Linked DNA regions of Homo sapiens: region 2 is linked to region 1. Evidence: fine-mapped expression QTL. A gene starts in region 1. The other region holds a variant in brackets. All regions are shown on one strand. Distances are from middle to middle. Region 1 holds the start of SNHG5 (small nucleolar RNA host gene 5). Region 2 has its middle 400 kb from the start of HTR1E.

Evidence for each region. PIP is the estimated chance that this variant, and not a neighbour inherited with it, causes the effect.
Region 2: its variant is fine-mapped to the expression of SNHG5 in whole blood (INTERVAL, PIP above 0.99).

What each region holds. Positions count from the first base shown.
Region 1 is chr6:85,674,784-85,683,127 of GRCh38, reverse strand. SNHG5 (small nucleolar RNA host gene 5) reads left to right here and starts at 4,395. Exons shown (of 6, transcript NR_003038.2): 1 at 4,395-4,434; 2 at 4,940-4,992; 3 at 5,096-5,174; 4 at 5,253-5,333; 5 at 5,636-5,704; 6 at 5,937-6,121. SNORD50A (small nucleolar RNA, C/D box 50A) reads left to right here and starts at 5,760; the gene lies at 5,760-5,834. It overlaps SNORD50B (small nucleolar RNA, C/D box 50B), which reads left to right and starts at 5,469; the gene lies at 5,469-5,539. RefSeq lists enhancers at 4,425-4,584, 4,755-4,814.
Region 2 is chr6:86,532,655-86,540,998 of GRCh38, reverse strand. No RefSeq gene overlaps it. Among named protein-coding and RNA genes, the nearest start is that of HTR1E, 400 kb to the left of the region's middle. The variant G/A (reference allele first, on the strand shown) is at 3,764.

The sequences.
Region 1 (8,344 bases):
CTGAAGCACAGTGCATGCACCAGGGGTTCAGTGAACATTTCTTCAAAAAAATGACTGAAGTGATTATCTTATCAGGAAGTTTGTTATAGAATATAAGAATTTATTTTCAGTATAATGAAGACTTCCAAGACACTTTTAATTTCAGTATTGATATTTATTAAGCCACTTCAAATATTTGGTAGTAATTCGCTTGACTGTTTTAGGTATGGGAGCAATAACTGATGGCTTCATCCCTCAGTTCATCTTTGTTTCCTGAAGAGATAAACATCTTAAAGGAGTTGTGTACTGACTTTATAGTCATTGACCACGTTCACAGGAAGGCACTGTTGTCAATTATCAGGCTCTGAGTTAATTTCATTTTTGCATTGCCCTTGTTACAGTTATTAGTTTTTGAATCAAAAGTAATTCGGGGCTCAGCAAGATGGCCCATGTCTGTAATCCCAACACTTTGGGAGGTCCAGGTGGAAGGATTGCTTGAGGCCAGGAGTTTGAGACCAGCCTGGTCAACAGAGCAAGACCCTGTTTCAACCAAAAAAAAAAAAAATTGGTCAGGTGTGGTAGTACACACCTGTAGTCCCAGCTACTTGGGAGGCTGAGGCAGAAGGATCACTTGAGCTAAGGAGTTCCAGGCTGCAGTGAGCTGTGATCACACTACTACACTCCAGCCTGAGTGAGCAAGACCCTGTCCGTATAAAAAAGAATAATAATAACATGGAAGGTTTTTTTTAAAAAAGGATTGGACTGTATATCACATATGTAGTACCTCTCTTACCCTAAGACTGTGGTTCTCAAACATCTATATGAATCACCCTACACGTGTGCTGTCCAATGCAGCGGCCAGCCACATGTGACAACTGAGCACTTGAAAAGTACAGACCACGCATGCACGTAAATGTTCATTGCAGCACTATCCACAATAGCAAAGATATGAAATCAACCTAAATGCCCATCAATGACAGATTGAATAAAGAAAATGTGGTACATATATACCATGGAATACTATACAGCCATAAAAAAGAATGAGATCATGTCTTTTGCAGGAACATGGATGGACCTGCAGCCATCATCCTTAGCAAACTAATCCAGGAATAGAAAACCAAATACTGCGTGTTCTCACTTATAAGTGGGAGCTAAATGATGGGAACTCATGAATACAAAAAAGGGAACTACAGACACTAGGGCCTCCTTGAGGGTGGAGGGTTGGAGGATGGAAGGGAGCAGAAAAAATAACTACTGGGTACTAGGCATAATACGTGGGTGACAAAATAATCTGTATAAAAAAATCCCTGTGATACGAGTTTACCTATATATAGCAAACCTGTGCATGTGTCCGCGAACCTAAAAGTTAAAAAGTAATAAATGTACAGACCAAATTGAGATGTAAGTAAAAAATACACACCTGATTTCATTTACTGCATACAAAAAACAAATGGAAAATATTTCAATGATTTTTACATTGTTTCTATGTCAAAATAAAAAACTTTGATTATATTTGGGTTAAATAAAATAGATTAGAACTAATTTCATTTTTCTTTCCTTTTTTCTTTTTTTTTTTTTTTTGAGACAGGGTCTGGCTCTGTTACCAAGGCTGGAAGGCAGAGGCACAATCTCAGTGCACAAGCTCACTGCAACCTCTGCCTCCTGGGCTCAAGCTATGTTCTCACCTCAGCCACCACACCCGGCTAATTTTTTATTTTTGATTTTTTTTTTTGTAGAGACAGAGTTTTGCCATGTTGCCCAGGCTGGTCCCAAATTCCTGAGCTCAAGCAATCCACCCGTTTTGGCTTCCCAAAGTGCTGGGCTTACAGGCATGAACCACCACGCCCGGCCCATCTGATCCTTTTTACATTTTAAAAATGTGTGGCCTGGCGTGGTGGTTCACGCCTGTAATCTCAACACTTTGGGAGGCCGAGGCGGGCGGACTACGAGGTCAGGATATCGAGACCATCCTGGTTAACATGGTGAAACCCCGACTCTACTAAAAATGCAAAAAAAAAAAATTAGCCGGGCGTGGTGGCGGGCGCCTGTAGTCCCAGTTACTCAGGAGGCTGAGGCAGGAGAATGGCGTGAACCCGGGAGGCAGAGCTTGCAGTGAACCGAAATCGAGCCACTGCACTCCAGCCTGGGTGACAGAGTGAGACTCTCAAAAAAAAAAAAAAAAAAAAAAATATATATATATATATATATGGCTACTAGTACATTTTTAATTACGTGTGTAGCTTGCATTTGTGGTTCATATTATATTCCAATTGGACAGTATTGCCTCTAATGCTTGTTTAAAATGTGGATTTTTGGGTCCCACTTTTGAACATTATGCTTTCAAGGTTCCAGGTTCGGGCCCAGAAATTTGATATTTTTTAACTTACCAGATTTTAACTGGTAAGTCAGGGTAAGGAATCACTGTTTTATATGGCTTTTGACCAGGTGATGTTTGTGGTCTTCAGAATGGCAGAAACTCTATCTCTACGAAAAATACAGAAAAATTACAGGGCGTGATGGCGCGTGCTTGTAGTCCCACATGGTTGGTGGGCTGAGGCAGAAGGATCACTTGATCCCGAGATTGCAGTGAACAGAGATAGAGCCACTGCACTCCAGCCTGGGTCACAAAGTGAGACCTTGTCTGGAAAAAAAAAGTCATCTATATGTACTGATATGGAAAGATGTTTATGATATTTACAAGACGGACAAACAAGTTGCAGAACATATAGATCCCATTTGTATGTGAAAAACGAAGTACATATATTTGCATTTGCATAGGAAGTCTCAAAAACTGTTAACAGTGGTATTGCTGAAGAGTACAACTAGGGAGAAGATTCCCAGGCATGTGGAAAGATACTTTCACTTTGCTTTTTTTGTTAACTCTTTTTAAAAATTTTTTTAATACAATAGAGACAGGGTCTTGGGCTCAATCCTCCCACCTCAGCCTCCAAAAGTGCTCTAATTACAGACATAAGCCACCACACCCGGCCTACTTTGCTTCTTATATCCTTTTGTACTGTATTGTTTGTTTTACTATTTACTATGAGCAATATGCAAATTTATGTAAGACATTACAAAGTAATACAAAAACCGACAAAATGCCCGGCCCAGTCAATACTTCATCATATAGGTTCCTGTTAGAGAAAAGTGCTTTTCACTACTATCTTTGAATGTGAAGTTTGATCTTCATTCTAATTTTCTAAAAAGCCACCGAATGTATTTGTTCATTCATTCATTCATTTAACCATTACCGACAACCTACTTAATGCTAGGCACTGTTCTAAGAAAAAATAAACAGCAGAGCACGAAATCAGATGTGTTGCTCCCACACTCTAGCAGAATCGGACCGTAATCAAATGCACACATAAACAACTTTAATAAGTAGTGCTTTGAAATATAGAAGTGAAGAACGACCTGAATTTTCAAATACTGAAATGTTCAAATGTCGTGTGCACACACACACACGCAGACATATTCACTCGAACATGCTAATTAATCAAAGCACTGCTTTTGAATTTTGTGTTTGTCGTCTGGATAAAGTATTCAGGGATACTTCTCAAATTAATCTTTCTCTCGTTTTCAATATAACTAATTGAGTACAAAGAAGTTAAAAATTAGCAAAGCATTTCAGCTGTGTGACCTTAGGCAAATTACCTGGCTGTTTTAAGCCTCAGTTTTCTCCTCTGCGAAATGGAGTATTGAACCTCACGTTCGCTGTTTGAGGGAGACTTGTATGGTCACGTTTAGTGTAACCGGATGCCTGGCACGAGGAAGCGTGAGGAGGAATGGATCCCCATGGGGCCTTGATGCCCGCCCTGAGGCCCTGCAGGGCCGCACGCCGGGGCTGTTCTCACGTGGCGCTTTCCGCTTTTTCACCCAAGCGTTTCTGCCAGCCAACTGCCCTTTCCCGGAGTGCTGCGGCCAGGGCTCGCCCGCTCCTCCGGCGGCCTCCGCTGGGGGCCCACTACAGCCCAGCGCCAGCCAGCCAGCCAGCCCAGCTTCTCGAATCGGTCCTAAGCTGAGGCCGCCCTGCGCTGCAAAACTTGTGTCCACTCTCGGACCCAATCTGTCCTGGACGGACTTGGCTCGTGGCAGGCGAAAGCGTCGTTTCCAACTGCAGCTGTTTGAATTCTGGCGCCACACCCGCGCCACGTAGGGCCAAGTCGGCCGCCAGACTCGTAAGAGACGCTTCGCAGTGCGCCTGCGGGCGCGCGCCGGGAAATGGCCGGGCGCGCGGCCGGCCTGCGGCGCGCTCCACAACGCGGAACGGGCCTCAGAAGAGCCACCGCGCGCGCTCCCGCTAATTCGCGACCACACCCCTGTCTACTTCCATGTCCAATAGGTGCGAGAGGGCGGGACGGCCTCGTTCTGACTCCGGGAGGCTATATAAGGAGCTACTGGCTGCGCACTTCGGTCTTTTACGTCGGCCTTCGCGAGCGTCTGGGCGGGTGGTAGGTGAGTGGGTATTGCGGGCTAGTATCCGAGCAAAAGATGGTGGCGCAGGCCGAGTTAAGAGCTTTAATCCTGTGAAGACATCTTAGTGAAGAGTTTAGAGTGCTGAGAGTTGAAAGCTTGCACGTGGGAAACGTGCGGCCGGACTGCCACATGTACTGAGGTTGAGTCGTGACGGCCACAGGCTCCGAGTTTTGGCGTGAGGAACCGCTGATCGGCCACGGGCGCCGAACTTGCTGGCCTCCGGCATGTGCCTGAGCGGCGGCGGAAAAACCACCTTAATTGGGGCGGAGGGTTAGTTTTAACAGCAAAGGGCCTTTACTAAAATGGCGAAGGCCTTCCGTCGGCGTTGTTTTAAAATGGGAAGCCTCGACCCTGTATTGAAACTGAGCTGTTCGAAGGCGGCGTTGTGTGCAATTCGGATTAATGAAGGGGAAGGGTTTTGTGTGGAAAAACGCCTTGGAGTGTGACATTTCTGCGAGAATGCTTAAATACCGATTTCCCGCAGGAACAATGGCGCTGTCTTCAGTGGCACAGTGGAGCAGCTCTGAAGATGCAAAGGTAAGAGCTTAGTTAAGCTTAGTTTCCAAACTAAAGGAGTAAACCTGTTGATTTACAGGAATAGGAACTGTTGCATCGTTTGAAATTTACTTTTTTTTGTTAGATACACGAAAAAACTTCCAGAACATCTGGGAGAATATTTAATGGAAAATCGCTTGGTTAAAACCTGACACTTTTAACAGGTATGTGTTGTTTTAGTACTTTATGATTGAGCATAGCATTTAATCCACACCTAGACTAAATCAAATTTTTTTTGTCAGTGAACAGCGTTCTGAGTGTGGACGAGTAGCCAGTGAAGATAATGAATGTCGAATGTGACTGACTAGCAGCTTCATTTTGAAGTAGGTTGTATGGCTTAAAAGTTCTGTAGTATTTGTACTATAATACTTGCCTTTTAGCATTACCTTGGTTTGTAGTCAGTGTCACAGAAGTGCAGTTTAATGTATTATGTGTACATATACAAGGTCTGATTGGTCTAATCAATGATGAAACCTATCCCGAAGCTGATAACCTGAAGAAAAATAAGTACGGATTCGGCTTCTGAGATTAAGACCAGTAATTCAGAGGTGGAGTAAATTTTGTTGCCGTGATTTTATAACAGTTGTGTTATAAAATCCTGGGTTTTTTTTTTTTCTGCCAACAGTGAGGGTCGCTGTCTGCCCATTGATAGAGGCCAGATTGTCTTGGAAGTTCCAAAGTTGCAACGATTTCTGTAAGTGGAGTTTTTCTGTTTGCTTAGAGATCAGTGAATATTGTGTCCTTGGTCTTATCTGTGATGATCTTATCCCGAACCTGAACTTCTGTTGAAAAAAAAAAACTTTTACGGATCTGGCTTCTGAGATGGACCGTTATAAGGACAATATTTTTTTTTAATACTTTTAATGCTTTTACATATGTTGTAATGTTTGTAGTCTTGTAAGAATCTCGTGTTTTTCCTTTTCTAGGGCTAGTGCCACGAGGTTTACTTGACTGTTGTGTGAAAAGCTGATAAGAAAACCATCCAGAAAAAAGCTCTTCGTTTTACAAACATGAAAATAAAACATGTAATTTTGGATTATGTTCCTTTTTGTTATTACTTTTAAATAGGTCCTGAAATAACATGGGGAGCATTAAATGGAAAATCCACTAACCAGCCTTGTAATCAAATTACTGTGAGTGAATGTTTCGGGTTTGTGCAGGGTACAATGTAAGGGTTTTTGGATCAGTGTAAGAGTGGAGAGACAGGAATTAGAAGTAATTGTTACTAAGCAAATCATGGAATATTTAGTTTTGATGTAACTATAATTTTGAAAGCCTGGATGCTTAAGTTGAGAAATGGGGGAATGAGATACAGAAAATAAGGAGCACAATAGAATAATAATAGCAGTTTATTAAGTATGGTCATGAGGGAAGGTTACTGATAAAACAATCTGGTAAAGACATTCAGGCTTGCTAAAATCTAGGAAGAGGTCATTTGGCAGGATGGGTTACATAATGCTATCTGATACTACCAAATAAAATGAGAGAGAAGCCTTAGGCATGTAACGTTTGGAGATAGAAAATGTACCTTCACTATGAAGGTAGTGTGTGTAAGATGGCAGTTGAAAGCATTGCTTGTGTTTATGTTTATACCCTTGATCTCTGATGCCCTTACCTACCGTACTTAAAACTCTGTTAATCATTGTCTTTCTCCCCCTCCCACAACTTCTGCATAAAATTTTAAGATCTGTGTTTCATTAGTTCAAGAGTGCCTAGAATAGGGCCAGGCACTGTTATACAGTATGTGGTAAAAGACTATTGAGATTCCAGTTTTCAAGGAAGAGTGCCATTACCGTTTTGTTAAAGCTGGCAAACAAGACAAAGTTGTGAAATAGACTGGTTGCTTTGGAGCCCTCTGACCGCTTTTCCTGTAGCTCCTTCTACCTCCCTTGCCTCCCAATAGATTTTTTAATATGTCACATTATCTATCGAAATTAGTACTCCACATTTATATGCACTGGCTTGTGCTAGGCTCTGCCAAGACTCCTGAAATAAAACCGTTTTGTCAACAGTGGCACAAGATGCCAAGGAAAAGTCAAGCTATGAAGGATTCTTGAAAATAGAACAAGTGGATTTGAGTCTAAACCAGCACAGATGTTGGGACAATAGGCCTAAGAAATAACTGAGCAAAGACAGTATGGTTCAGAGTCTGAGACAAATATTGAGGATTTGGGTACCAACAGGGTGGATAGGTGTAGGACAGAAAACTGATGTTATAAATACCCTTAAGATTCTTGAGCAAGGAAGTTACAAATGTAAGACTATTCCTGTAATGAGAGTCAGATCCAAAAAGGTTTAATTTGAATGGAATTGAACTTGAAAGTTCAGTTTCAATTACTGACTCCTTGATGGCAATTTCTAATCACACAGGAGGCTGTTAGTCTGTCATAGCCTCCTAAAATCTCAGGCGATATTGGTTAAGATCAGTTTCCTAAGTTTACCCTCCAGAGCATAGCTGCTGCTTGGGACCAGGTGCAGTGACTCATGCCTGTAATCCCAGCACTCTGCTTGAGCCCAGGAAGAGACCAGCCTGGAAACAGCAAGTTGTCATCTCTATAAATAAGTAAAACTGGGTGTGGTAACATGCGCTTGTTCCAGCTACTCGGGAGGCTGAGATAGGAGGATCACTTGAACCTAGGAGGTTGAAGCTACAATCAGCCATGATTGCACCTCTGTCTTCTATCCTGGGCAACAGACCAGGCTAAAAAAAAAAAAAATCCTTAAGGAGCTTGACTATAATAGACTGGGATATGCTTGATTCTGATTGGTTTCAGAAGTTGAAAGATAATTTACGTGTCTGACTTTAGTGACTTCAGCCAACAGGAATTTTTCCTCTGCCTTACACCAGGCTTCCAGGTAATCTTAAAATACAGTAAGCTCAAACCTACCATTTGGTGCTTTCTAAAATTAGTTCTATTGCCAGAAACCCAATATCCACTGTGCTTGGCTCCCCAGTCAAGTGTCCTGTGAACTAACATCAATCCTCACTGCCCTGTGTATATGAAAGAGCTTTCAGCTGTTTTCATGGTTTTTCTAACAGTTCCCCAGTTGGGATTAGAGCCTTTGTTTGAATCAGCCTACTAGAATAACCTGCTTATCTTTTGCCAGTCCTTTAATAGGAGTGGGACCCTCCTTCCTGCCTTTTCAAAAGCTTGGTTCTGGATCCAAACAATACTTATAGTACTTAGTTATAGGTATATATTAGTATACATGACTTAACTGTCTGAATATTGCCACTGCCTCTGATCTTACTCCATCCTGTAGAGTAACATCTTGTAGAGAGCATCTTGGGGCAGAAGAGGATACATTTTCAGTATGAGAACCAGACTCCTTG
Region 2 (8,344 bases), 860 kb before region 1:
TCAGACCAGTTTCCAGCAATGAGGGGCTCCTTTTTGCTTTCTCAGAAACAAGAAAAATACCTCTTTTTGACATGTAATCTTTGGTTGCACGTGTCTGTTATGGAACTTAAAACTGCTGTCACTTACGTTACTTTGCTGTGTGTTGCCTAAACAATGATCACTTTAGTGGACACCATTAACCACTTGCTCTTCTTGAGACACTCTCCTCTTGGCTTTATTGACATGGTGCTTCTCTGAGTTTCCTCTGCATCTCTGGTCCTGATTCTTAGCCTTCTTTCTCCCTGATTCTTCTCCCACTCTGAATGTGTGGATTCCCTGGGGCTTACTCCTAAGCCCTTCCATTTTCTGTTTCCACTCTCTCCATTACTGATTCCACCCATTCATATAGCTTTATGTGCTGTCTCTATAGGGAAGTTCCAAATTTATATGTTTACCTTGGATTTCTCCTTTGACTTCTAGACTCATTTATCCAACTGTCTACTTGATATCTTCACTTGAAATTTCACAAGAATCGCAAATGTAAAGTCTCTGATATAGTTTAGATATTTGTCCCTGCCCAAATCTCATATTGAAATGTAATCCTCAGTGTGGAAAGTGGGGTCTGGTAGGAGGCAACTGGATCATGGTTGTGGATTTCTCATGAATGGCATTCTCTTGGTGCTGGCCTCATAATAGTGGGTGAATTCTAGCAAAATCTGGTTGTTTAAAAGTGTGTGGCACCTCTCCTCCTCTCCCCCTCCCCCTGCTTTCTCTGCTTTTGACATGTGATGTGCCTGCTCCCTCTTCATTTTCCATCATGACTGTACATTTCCTGAGGCCTCCCCAGAAGCTGAGCAGATGCCAGCACCATGCTTCCTATAAAGCCTGTAGAACTATTAGCCAATTAAATTTCTTTTCTTTTCTTTCTTTCTTTCTTTCGTTCTTCTTTCCTTTTTTTTTTTTTTAACAGGGTCTTATTTTGTCACCCAGGCTGGAATGCAGTGGTGCCATCATAACTCACTGCAGCCTAGACCTACCTTGCTCAGGTGATTCTCCCATCTCAGCCTCCTGAGTAGCTGAGACTACAGGCTTGAGTCACCATGCCTGGCATTTTTTTTTTTTTCCATTTTTTGTAGAGGTGGGGTTTGGCCATTTGCCCAGGCTGGTCCTCAAGCTCTTGGGCTCAAGCAATCTACCAGCCTTGACCTCCTAAAGTGCTGGGACTACAAGCATGAGCCACTGAGCCCAGACAAATCTCTTTTCTTTATAAATTACCCAGTCTCAGGTATTTCTTTGTAGCAATGCAAGAATGACCTAACAGAGTGTGTAAAGAGGATTTTATTGATTTTATGCCTGAAAGTCATTCCTCCTCTGGTCTTTGGTGTCTCAATAAATAGCCCCACAATCTATCCAGATTCTCAAAGTTGCAACCCGGGGGTCAAATGTAATTTGTATGTGCCCTCATATTTGATCTATCAGCAAATCTTGCTGCTCCTACCCCAAAATTTATCTCACATCTCTCTACTTCTTGTCTCCTCCATGGTCCAGTTCTAGTCCAAGCCACAGTTATCTCTTCCCTTCATGAGAACAGCTTTGTTATTGAACTCTTGGCTCCAACCTTGAGTCTTTTTCCTCTATTCTCATGAAAGCCAAACTCTTCTTTTGAAAGCACAAATATGATTAAATAACTTTTCTATCACCTTAACATTCTTCAATAACTTCCCATTGCACTTTAAAATAAAATCTAAACTCTTCCCCATGTGCCCCACTTGACATACACTAATCCTGCCTATCAGGCTTTTCTCATCTGAGACACCTTCTCTCCCTCGCTCATTATGCTCCAGTCGCAGGATTTTTCAAAAAAATTATTATCCAATTTTTCAAGCTCATTCCTACCTCAGGGCCTTGAGGTTGCCCTCCTTACCATTTAATAGAATTCATAATTTTCTACTTTTTAGATAATGTAATATCTATATTTCCTGCAAGACTGAAAGTTCCAATAAGGCAAGAATGATATGTTTTGTTTCCTACTCTGCAGTTCTGCATTTAGCACATAAGCAGCACTCTGCAAATATCTGTTAAACATATGGACATATTAATGCATTGTCAGTCACTATTCCCTTGGAGTAAACTAGGTTTGTTCTCACTGGCTTCAGAAACACTACATGAGTGAAGCAGAGCAGCTAAAAATGTGGAAATCATCAAAGAATGTAAAAATGGACTCTGTGTCTGCAGGAGGTAGAGGATGAACAGAGGTGATGGGATTCAGCCATGGGAAAGGAGAAAGACTACTGCACTTGGACTCAGAAGACTGAAGGTCTGGACCAGATGCAGGAAGTTGAATAATTCACTTAGGCTCTGTGTTAGACTGAATAAGTCCCTCCAAAGATGCCCACATCCTAATCCCTGGAACCTATCAATATGTTACCTTACATTACAAATGAGGCTTTGCAGAAGTGATTGAATTAAGGATCCTGAGATAATCCTGGATTACCCAAATGGACCCAGTGTAATCACCAGGGCCCTTGTTAGGCAGGAGAGTCATACTTAAGATGAAGATGTGAGGACAGAGCAGAGCAATGTGGGGCCACAAGCTAAGGAATGCATGTAGCACCTAGAAGCTGGAAAAGGAAAGGAAATGAATTTTCTCCTTGAGCCTCCAGGAGACACTCAGCCCTGCCAACCCATTTTAGATTTCTGACCTCTACAACTGTAAGACAATAAATTTGTATTGCTTTTAAACCACTAAATTTGTGATAATTTATTACAGCAGCAATAAGAAACTAACATAAGCTCTGAGACTCATCTCTAAAATCTGTCTTATTTACCTATTTGTTTGTTTGCCTTTGTTGCTACTATTGTCTCTGCAAACTAAAATTAAAGTTATGTAATGGAAGAGGCTATATCTCTGTTGTCCACTGTTTTATTTCCAGGATCAAGAACAAAGCCTGACACAGAGTAGGCTTTAAATAAATATTTGTTGAGTCAGTGAGTAGATGAACACAGATTTCTATCCAGTGGGGTAATTGTGCAGACCAAACATGCAAATATAAATTATAGACTATTTCAACAACTGAGCAGAAGTCATTCCTCCTATTCTCCCTGTGATTTCCTCTTCTTTTTAAACACATTCATTCCATCTGTTGCCTTCCCATGGGGTCTCCTTTACTCCTCTCCCAAGTTCTTCCTCCATCATTTGATGTCCTTTTACCTAATTCTTCCCTTAGGCTCTCTACCCTTAATTATATTATGTAATATCTAACTGTCTTGCTTGGGGATCCAGATGTGACTGGATTACATAAATACAGAGATAGCCACTTCTGATTTACATGTATGGCATACATGCATCCCTATGACTTTGATTAAATTTCATGTTTCATTTTAATGGATTTGAATAAATCACTTTAACGAATGTTGTATTCATTTACCTTAATTTGATTAGACCATTGCATATGAGAGAAATCTGTTCTGAAATTGCTCATGTTAATCACAAAATTGCATCCTAATGTAGTGACTAAAAGCACGTTTTCTTTTCAAAAGACAATTATGTCACATGCCATTTTAATCAAATTAGGCAGAGCAATTCCTCTGTAGCAAGATAGTGCTGAAAAGCAAGTTTGTGACCCAGCTTTCCTTCTTTTGCAGCCTGCTGGATGACTCACACTGTCATATGCTCTGGTTTACCAGGCACTGTCTATGAGTCTTTCTGGGTTATAGATTCCAATCAATATCATGCAAAAAAAAATTATGTGTGTGTAAAAGAGGGGGAGAGAGGGTAAGTGAG[G/A]AAACATACTGAGAATCTGACAGCAATACAGAGGGCTCTAACTTTTAAACCTGTGGTTTGTGATTTCAAATATTCAACATGTGTTAAGTGAAGTCATGCAATCTTCCTGAGGAAAATTGTTGACTGAGAGAGGTGGATGGTGTACCTCTGCAATGCTTGTCATCATGGTTTTCTTGAAATGCAGATGTAGGGGAGATGTTGGTGAGGGAGGTCGGGAGGACAGAAGGTTGATTGTGGTAAAGTCTTCATTAGGCAAGGACTCCAGAAGCCTCCTCCATGTCAAAATATCTCCTACTCACATTCAAACAGACATTCACTTGGGTGAACAGGCTCCTACTCCAATTTTTTGCTATCTAAATTTGTGAATATTTTCCTTTCTTGAAGATAGCAGCCTCACTGATGTGTTTGTACAAACAGGCTTACTTAGCCTTCTCACATATATGTATGTATATGTGTGCATATATATACAGTATACATGAACAGTATATTATATATGTGCATAGATATACACATATATAACTATATGAATACACACACATACACACATATACCAAAGAGGTCCTATTCTCTATTGAACAGAGAAAAATTACAAAAGTCAGGAGGGGTGTTCTTAGATAAATGCTTCTTGAGTGATTAATTCTAATATTCATTTGTAACTTTATTAACTTCAATTATATAATAAAAGCATCATTTATGTAAATCAATACACAAGGAATTATTTCAAAGTTTTCTGTATTTATCATTGACTTTGCATGCATGTGTTTCCTTGTTCAGCAAACCTTCATTGAGCCTCTATTGTATGCCAAGCTCTATGCTGATTTCTGAAATTGTAGATATGAAAAAGAAATCTTCTTGCCCTTATAGACTTCATAGAACAATGGAAGAAGGAATATAAAACAGGCATATTGCACAATATTGTGGTAAGAGTTGTAACTGAAAAAAGGGACATAAAATAGTAAAAGCCTGAAAATTATCTAAACTTTCACTATTTCATTTTACTCATCTGATCTAGAAAAACATATAATAAGACATTGAAGTAACTTTTAATTCTTATATTCTGACACTTTAAATTATAATTGTCAAAGAATAATTTTTCCAGACATTTTAGTCAGCAGTATCAGACTTCCTAGAGATTTATTCACAAAATTTCTAGGTAGATCAATGATCTGTAGTTAATCTACAGAGTAACAGGATTAGATTGAACAGCACTTCCAGGTCTTTCCCACATAGTTTTGTCCTGGAGACTAGCCATGAAATCAAGGAATTTCAGAGTGTATATGTGGCGAGGGAGGCAGTGGGTAGTAGGGAGTCTGTGGATACTATTATCGTCCCCATTTTACAGATGCATGCCAACAATAAAGTCAAGAGAAGTTTAATAACTTTTCAAGAATACACAACTAATGTATGGTTAGGCTGAGAAGTGAGTGTAAGCAATTCAGATCCAGACACTGCTGCGGTAGATATCTCTCACACTCTTTGAAGTAGAGGAGACTAGAATTAAAAAGCTCAGTAGTTGTATCTTGCTGCAAATTTAACGTGAGTTAACAAGTGGCCAACAAAACAGTTTAAATAATAGCTTTGCTAGTAAGAATATATCTATTTATATTAATAATTACTGCAAACCAATTACTCCAAAACTTAATAAACACACTATCAACACACATTTATTATTTCTCAGTTTTGTGGTTCAGGATTCTGGGTGCAGCTTTCTGGATCCTCTGGCTCAGGGTATCTGACAGGCTGTGATCAAAGTGTCAGCTAGGGCAACAGAAGGCTCAAAGCTTGACTGGGGTGGGTTCACCTCTCAGCTCACTTGCATGTTCACTGGCAGGATTCTGTTCCTCTAGTGCTCTTGGACTAAGGACCTTAGTCCTGATTAACTGTTAACCTGAGACGTCAGTTCTTTGCCACATGGTGCTTTTTATAGAGCTACTCATAACAGACAGCTGGTATCCCTCAGAGCAAGGGCTCTGAAAGAGGGCAAAAAATAATGAGAGAGATTGAGCAAGACAGAAGCCAGAGTGTTTTATTTTAATGTAATCTATCCTCAGAAGTGATATCTAATCATATTTACCATATTCTATTTGTTATGAGAGTCACTAGGCCCAAGCAACACACAAGGGGAGGTGATTGCACAACGTCATGAATACCCACAGGAACAGATCATGGGGGCTCATTTTAGAGGCACCTACCACACTGTTACCAATACCAGGAGAAATTTACCTAACGTCATGACTTCGGGACAGCTGAAGTAATCAATATGCCAAATATATAAAATATATTTATATAAGATATACAGAAATAAAGATAGTTGTAGATCTACATATACACAGTCAGATACATATACATAGAAATATAAGAAGCTACAAAAAATAAATTAGTTATCTAGATCGAGGATCTTCACCATTTCAATTTCCACACAAACACTGTCATGTCAAGAAAGTTTTATATTTTTCTAGCAAAAACTCATTCAGATAGAGAAACGCTTTCATAAATGTTTCACAAGCCCTCGTCTCAATTCAATCCTTTTCTCATGGTCATGAAAGCCTGTAAGCAAATGGATATGAAAAGTTGTTTATTTTGTCCCATGGACAGTTTCCTGCTATTCTAAAAAAGCTTTGACCAGTTCTCCTTTATACCCCATCACATTAATCAAAAATCCTAGATTACCTATATCTTCTCTGTGCTGGTGACCTGCTCCCTGCTTGGAGTCAGTGCCAAATTTTACTTTTCTGCCTCAACATCGTGAAAATGACTTCAGTCTGGTAACCTACACTTGACTTCACTCCTTGGAGTACTGTTTAACATTTTGAACCTGAATAACAACCTCCACCCATTGGAAGGTTGTTCTTATATTTTTTAGTTTTAAATCGGGGGTAAGGGTTCAAGTTCTTGTCATTGATATTCAGAAAGTATCTATGTGGACAAAATTACCACACATTTCATCATGATAGCTGATGAAGCCTGCTTTTGCTATACTATATAAATCTAAGTCACGCTATAGCCCTCCTATTAGCTTTTAAAAATATGTGTGTAGTTGAATTTATCTTCATGTACAGAGAGCCCTTCATTGATTTAGAAATTAAGCTATGTAATTACCTAATGGGTAATTTTTGGTACTAACATATTTCTGCAGAGATCCTCTATCATTTGTTGACATGAGAAGCTAAATTTTTCCTCCTGAGTTATATTTGCCTCAGATGTTTGAAATAAAATCAACTGAGTCCTGATTATAAACATATAATCATAGGATCATACAGAGGGTCACAGGATTATGGCATTTTAGACACACTTTTTAATTAGGCTAGGTTTCCTAAAGAGAAAAACACAAAAGTTTAAATAATCAATTTATTTATTCAAGCAATATTTATTGAGTGCCTGCTATGTTTCATGTACTATGTTAAGCACTGAGAATACAGTGTGAAAAGACAGAAAAGACTGATCTTTTGGAATTTAATGATAAAAAATCTCACAGAAATTGTATTTTTAAAATCAATTATCTCTTAGGAATTTGGTGGCTATTTCAAAATATTCCAAAAATAAGGAATCCAATTGTAACCAGAGAGCATGTGGCTTGTTGCCCATGCCTCCACTCAGTAGAAGAACTAAGATTCATTTATCATTTTAGTGCCAATAGTTGACCATATGGGTGGGTTTTGGAGAGACCATAATAAACCCACATCAGGTTCCCTTCCCCATGAGGTTTATAAAAACTTTTTGTTGCTCTCCTGTTGATAGCATAGGCATAATACATATTTGACAACATTCATTGTCCAAACAGAAAAATATGCTATAATAAATTAATATGTATTTTTAAATTTATTCAATCAATTATATATATACATATATTATATATATACATATATATAGAGAGAGAGAGCTAGATGGAATTAATATTGTTTTGATCAGGTAGGAATTGAAAAAACTATTCTAAAAACGTCATAAGGCACTCTGGCTAAGGTATCTATAGAATTATAGCCAGAATTTATTAAGGTGAACGATATATAAATGAGATCTTTGTACACTCTTACTGATGTCAGAAAAAATGTGCATGTGAGATAGATATTGTTAGCCCCATTTTGTAAGCCATTTGTTAAACACAGTCATTACTAAAAATTAAGTTGCACAAACTTAAAATTAAAAACAATCAATACTCAATAGAACTTACTACATTTTAATCAGTTCACTAAATTTTGCCATTACCTGTGATCTTGAGGTTATCTATGTTTATTGTGTCTTTATGGTAAAAATACAATATAGTGGTGTGCTACGCAGCATACCTCTTCCCACTTCTGTGTTTAATGATGTCAAACATGGTAGGAACATTTATACCACCAAAATAAGCTAATGATAGAAATCAAAGCCTTTTATTTTTCTGAGCTAGTTCTTAAATATATGCCAGCACACCACTGGATACTCTCTTAGAGAAAGCATTCCTTGCTCTGAGCCAGCAGTTGATTTAAGGTGCTATTGTTTTTTCTATAGACTGAATATAAGGCATCCAGAAACCTTAGAAGTGAGATGACAACCCTTATTATTATACCTAATGACCTGCTCAAAGTTTTCACGTCACTTCCCTAC